2 separate regions of the Homo sapiens genome follow, and region 1 is linked to region 2. Evidence: fine-mapped expression QTL. A gene starts in region 2. The other region holds a variant in brackets. All regions are shown on one strand. Distances are from middle to middle. Region 1 overlaps ANKRD11 (ankyrin repeat domain containing 11). Region 2 holds the start of ZNF778-DT (ZNF778 divergent transcript).

Region 1 (2,500 bases), 96 kb before region 2:
GTGGAGGAAAGAGGGAGCTCTCCTGGCTCAGGTCTCAGATATGCTTATTGAGGAGGTGGTTCTCTGAGCCGCTTGACACACCAGCAGGCTGGGCGTGGTGGAGCCCTGTGTCAGTGGACTTGCAGGGAAGGCAGTCTCGGCAGGGTAGCACGAGACGAGAAAGGCCGGAAGAGCCACAGAGAGCAGGTCGTGTTGGCGCAGGAGGCAGGGTGTCCTGATTTGCCGGCAGCCCCAGCGCTGATGTGTGCGCTCAGCTGCTTTGAGTTGTTCTCTTGTTTAAGGAGAAGAGAGACTTGATGAACTGGCCTGATAATGTCGATGCGAGCTCTGTTCACACGTGTGCTGTGAGGGATGTGTGGATTTCACTCTGGGCTTTTCCAGTAAGGTAGCTGTGTTATGGGTTCAGTTGTATGTGTGGTTTTTTGTTGTTGTTGTTTGTTTGTTTGTTTTGAGACAGGGTCTGACTCTGTCACCCAGGGTGGAGTGCAGTGGTAGAGTCTCAGCTCACTGCAACTTCTGCACCCTCCATAACCCCCCACCCTGCCCCACTGCCCCAGGCTCAAGCAGTCCTCCTACTTCAGCCTCCCTTGCAGCTGGGACCACAGGAGCAGACCGCTACACCCGGCTCATTTTTGTATCTTTTGTAGAGACGAGATCTTACCATGTTGCCAAGGCTGGTCTCAAGCTTCTGAGCTCAAGTGATCCTTCAGCTTCCGCATCACAGGCGTGAACTACCACACCCAGCCTGTCCTGTTTTGTTTGTTTGTTTGTTTTTCCAACTACTCACAGTAAAGCCAGGCATTTTCCTCATGGAGGCAGACAAATTTTAAACGCATTACAGGGAGTAGGGAGCTCTCAGGCCTGGTGGAGCTTTCTTAGCTTGAACAGTAGCTTGAAATAGAATGCCTGGGAAGACGCACTCCTGGTTGCAGCTGCTGTTAGAAGAGGCTGTATTCCTTAGGGAGGAAGTGAGCCCCAAGTGCCAGAACTCAGGTGCACACATCTGACCTGCCTTCTCCTGGTACAGGCTGAAATGGTTTCTGCTCAGTCTTCTACCATAAACTCCCTTTTCTCCAGATATAGCTTTATGTTATCAAAAACAATATATTTTTAGATTTTTCCAAAAGAATCGTGATCTCAGTGACATATACGTGGAAGATGGAAATGGAGCCCAC[A/G]ACTCTGCAGTGCATCCTGATGCCGCGCTGACCTGACGGCTTGTGCGTGTCCCTTTGGCTGCACCAGTGAGCACAGTGGCAGGCGTGTCAGAGAAAGGGCCCCTTCTGCAGACGGTCTCTCACCATTGCCGACCACGGAATCCCAGAACCGCTGAGCTGCCTCGGGAAGAACCAGCAGGTGTCTGCATCGTTGAGTGTGTTCTGATCCAAAGGTGTGCAGGGCTACAGAGAACAGTGTCGTCCCCACCCCATGGGTCCCCTGTCGTCCCCACCCCATGGCACAGTCACCCTGTCTCATTGTGCTCCATGCACGCCACTCAGAGCACAGGCAGCCTCACAGCCCCCTGAGCTTCACTTGGTGGTTCTCAAAGTGTGTCCTCCGACGAGCAGTCACCTGAGCTGCTGGAGCTTGTTAGGAACCCACATTCACAGCCCCACTGAGACCTGGCGAGCTGTGTGGAGGCCGAGAGGCTGGAGATGGCGTCCATGGGCATGGAGGCTGCAGTTGAGAACTGAGCATGTGAGCCCTCCAGCGAGTCTCAGCAGAAACCCCCCCAGTCTGTGCCAGTTACAGACTCACATCTGGTCTGAGGCCCCTCCCCGAAGATAGCTTTGTCAGTGCTGCAGGTGGGGAGCTGGGAGCTACGTCCCTCAAGATAAGTATTCCAGAGTGACCTTAGCTGAGAAGCTGGGAGGCGCATGGCTGGGCCTCGGCGTGTCCCACCTCAGGCTGTGGTTTCACGAGCCAGTCTGGCATGGGGTCTGTACTCAGAACAGAGCCCAGAACTCCCCCGCATGCTTCGGGAGGAGCAGGAGGCCGTGTCTGATGGCGAGAGCACAGGAGGGCGAAGCTGGGCTCACACACCCCTGAGACCGCTGTGGGCCCACATGGGCTCGTGGAGAGGGTGATTTCTGTCCATCTTTTCACTAAGGCAGAAAAGGACATAGAGCAGCATCACAGAGGAAGCCAGACTTGCTGGGCTTGCTGGACTTGGATCCGCTTCTCTTCCCAGTCTTAGGGCTCAGAGCACACGGCCTGTGGCCCGCCAGCTCCTACCATTTCTGCTTACCTGACAGTTGGGCTTCCCCCACCACCCAGTTCACATGCCTGCATGCTGCCTCCGCCCTGCCCCGCCCCTCCCCTGCGTGATTCCTCTCTGTAGAACACACTGTCCTCATCTCCTCCCACTGGAGGTTTAGCTCTGAAGCAGCGAATTTGCATTCTGTGCATTCTCAGCTCTGCCACATGCCGTCTGCACTGAGGCTTACCTGATGCTGTGAACGCCGAGCTCCTCAGGTTCTCACATCACGTTTAAGAAGTGGAA
Region 2 (3,016 bases):
AATTCAATTACAAGTTCATAGGAAGCAGCAAGAAATGGAGGAATATTTAAACGTATCACGAGAAAACAACACCAAAGTCAATATGATAGAGAAACCACAGGGGTTGTTCTAGGTGAAAAGACATAAACGATGGGAACAGATAAACCTTGAAGGGCTCTTAGTCCCCAAAATACCCAACAGCGCAATGTTGGAAAAATGTTGAGAATCCTAGATATTACACAAAGTAGACAGTGGATGACCTCCTTCTTATTTTTTTATTTTTTTATTTTTTTGAGACGGAGTCTTGCTCTGTCGCCCAGGCTGGAGTGCAATGGCACGATCTTGGCTCACCGCAACCTGTGCCACCCAGGTTCAAGCGATTCTCCTGCCTCAGCCTCCCGACTAGCTGGGATTACAGGCATGCGCCACCATGCAAGGCTAATTTTGTACTTTTAGTAGAGACGGGATTTCTCCATGTTAGTCAGGCTGGTCTTGAACTCCCGACCTCAGATGATCCACCCGCCTCGGCCTCCCAAAGTGCTAGGATTACAGGCGTGAGCCACTGTGCCCAGCGGACCTTATTATTTTTAATTATTATTATTATTTTTTGAGACGGAGTCTCGCTCTGTCGCCCAGGCTGGAGTGCAGTGGCGCCATCTCGGCTCACTGCAAGCTCCGCCTCCCGGGTTCACGCCATTCTCCTGCCTCAGCCTCCAGAGTAGCTGGGACTACAGGAGCCCGCCACCACGCCCGGCTAATTTTTTGTATTTTTAGTAGAGATGGGGTTTCACCGTGTTAGCCAGGATGGTGTCGGTCTCCTGACCTCGTGATCCACCCGCCTCGGCCTCCCAAAGTGCTGGGATTACAGGCGTGAGCCACCGCGCCCGGCCTAATTTTAATTTTCTTAGATGAAATACTAATATTGTGGTTTCAGTAGGATAATGTCCTTACCCTTAACAGACGCTTTACCAAGTATTTAAAGGTTAAGTATCATGTGTGCAGTTTAATTTCAACTTACTTACACTCAAATAATAATTCACCGTAAGGTTTATTTATTGGGGGAGAGAGAAAACATGGCCCAAAGCTAAAAAGGAGTAAAACGATTGCAGTGGATATTCCTTGTAGCAGATGTTCACATTTTTATTAGATTCAGATTTTCTAAAGCAAAACGTGAGAAAAAATACAGTTAGTCGAAACACACTGTTCACCGTGGATTCGATTACTCCAAGACCAGCGGGACAACGGCCGCATCCCTCCCGCCCCGAGGGCCGGGCCTGGAAGTCCCGGCGGCGAGGGACGCGCGCTCCCGCTGGCCCCCACGGGCTAACTTTCACAGGGAGCTGCACGCCCGGGGCGCTCAGGGGTCTACCTTACGCTTCGGTCCCAACACAATGTGCCAGAAACAAATAAAAAACGTCAAAGCCGAAGCCAGATTCTCACAGAAACACGCCCTGTTCAAAGTGAAGGAAGCAAAGGGCCCCTCTCTCACCAGCTCCGCGGAATGGAAGCGCTGCCCGGGTCTACCGCGAGCGGCGGCGACTTTCCCTTCTGGAAGCGGTGCCGGGGGCGCAAGGCGCGAGGCAGGCGGGCGGGCGCCCACTCCCGGACCAGCTTCCCCGCGGACAGCCCGAGGACACGCGCGGAACTCTCCGGCGCCAGCACGCACCGCCGCAAGAACCGGATCAGCTGTAAGACAGGCGGAGGCGGGGCCGGCGCCGGAAGAGGGGCCGGCGCGTCTTTGGCGTCACTTCCGCCTCCAGCCTCCGGGCCGAAGCTTTGGCCTATGGTGCGGGGAGGTAGTAGTTTCTTCCGCGAGGGTGCGGGAGGGCCCCGGGGCGCCCTTGGGAACCGGGCTGGAGGCAGAGACAGGCCCGGAGGACCAGGCGGACGTAAGGATCAGGCCTCTGGACGCAACTGCGGAGCCGGAACAGACCAGGAGGGCGCGGTTGGGCGGGTACAGCCAGGAAGTGCTCGTCGCGAGCGCGGCCCGCGGTTCGGTCACAGCGAGAAGCCCGCGGGTGCTGGGAGTGCTCGGTCTTCTCTCGATCTCTGCAGGGAGTCACTGGCCCCGTTCCTTTTTATCTGTCTGAACATCACGCCGAACTTTTAACAGTTGATTCCACTGCATTTTCAATGTGGTATTTTTTTTTTCTGTAAATGTTCATCTATTTTTCGCTTCAAATATGCGTTTCTGTTACTTTTCTAATGTACCGTAGGAGCCAAGACCACCTATACTACGTTGCAAAATAGCACTGATACCAGGGGTTCTCCCAAGGTTCATTCAGAAATGTCACATGATTCCAGTAACAATACGAAAAGGTTTTTTTTTTGGAACCAGGCATATTGATCCTGGAGTTCACATGGAGGAACAAATGTCTCATAACGCAGACGACGCGGACAAACAAAAGCGCAATGCCCGACAGATGCGAAAACAGCCTCTGTCATTAAAACTGTGTGCTAGTGACACATGAACAGGAAACAAATGGAATATCCAGACATCAACCCAGTAACATGGAAATTTGGTTCATAAACATAATTTCAGAGCGGTGGAACAAACATGCAGTTTATAATGAAAGGTGCTAAGACAAATGGTTAGCCGTCTGAGAAATGATGAAATTAATTCTGGATCTCACAGGGATAAACTCCAAACGGATCAGGAGTCTAAATGTGAAAAACAAAACAAAACCACATGTGAAGTGTTCACGTGATTTCGTGGCTGATTAAGAAACAAGATGTGCCCAGGAGGTGGCGGTGGCGCACAAGCTTTGACAGGTTGGAGGGTGAGGGAGTCTCACGCACCATGAGATTACCCACAGGCTTCGAATTGGGGGTCACTACTCAGAAAAGAGAAAAAAATGAGCGTGGGCGGGGGGCGCGCAGAGAACTCCCAGAGAAGAAGGAGATCAGACAGGGGGAGGGCTGACGTGACTAGATCACGTTTCTCAGCAGCCTGACAGGTGTCTGAGTCACAAAGCTCTGAAGGGCAGCAACGGCTTGCAGTCTTTAGAGCCCCAGGATTTATCTTATCTATGGCTAG

The links. PIP is the estimated chance that this variant, and not a neighbour inherited with it, causes the effect.
Region 1: its variant is fine-mapped to the expression of ZNF778-DT in nucleus accumbens (GTEx, PIP above 0.99).

What each region holds. Positions count from the first base shown.
Region 1 is chr16:89,312,204-89,314,703 of GRCh38, reverse strand. All of the region lies in intron 3 of ANKRD11 (ankyrin repeat domain containing 11), which reads left to right. Among named protein-coding and RNA genes, the nearest start is that of ZNF778, 96 kb to the right of the region's middle. RefSeq lists an enhancer at 1,055-1,849. The variant A/G (reference allele first, on the strand shown) is at 1,176.
Region 2 is chr16:89,216,363-89,219,378 of GRCh38, reverse strand. ZNF778-DT (ZNF778 divergent transcript) reads left to right here and starts at 1,726. Exons shown (of 1, transcript NR_186410.1): 1 at 1,726-3,016. It overlaps ZNF778 (zinc finger protein 778), which reads right to left and starts at 1,676. Exons shown (of 7, transcript NM_001201407.2): 1 at 1,469-1,676. RefSeq lists enhancers at 260-789, 790-1,320, 1,845-1,894, 2,844-3,016.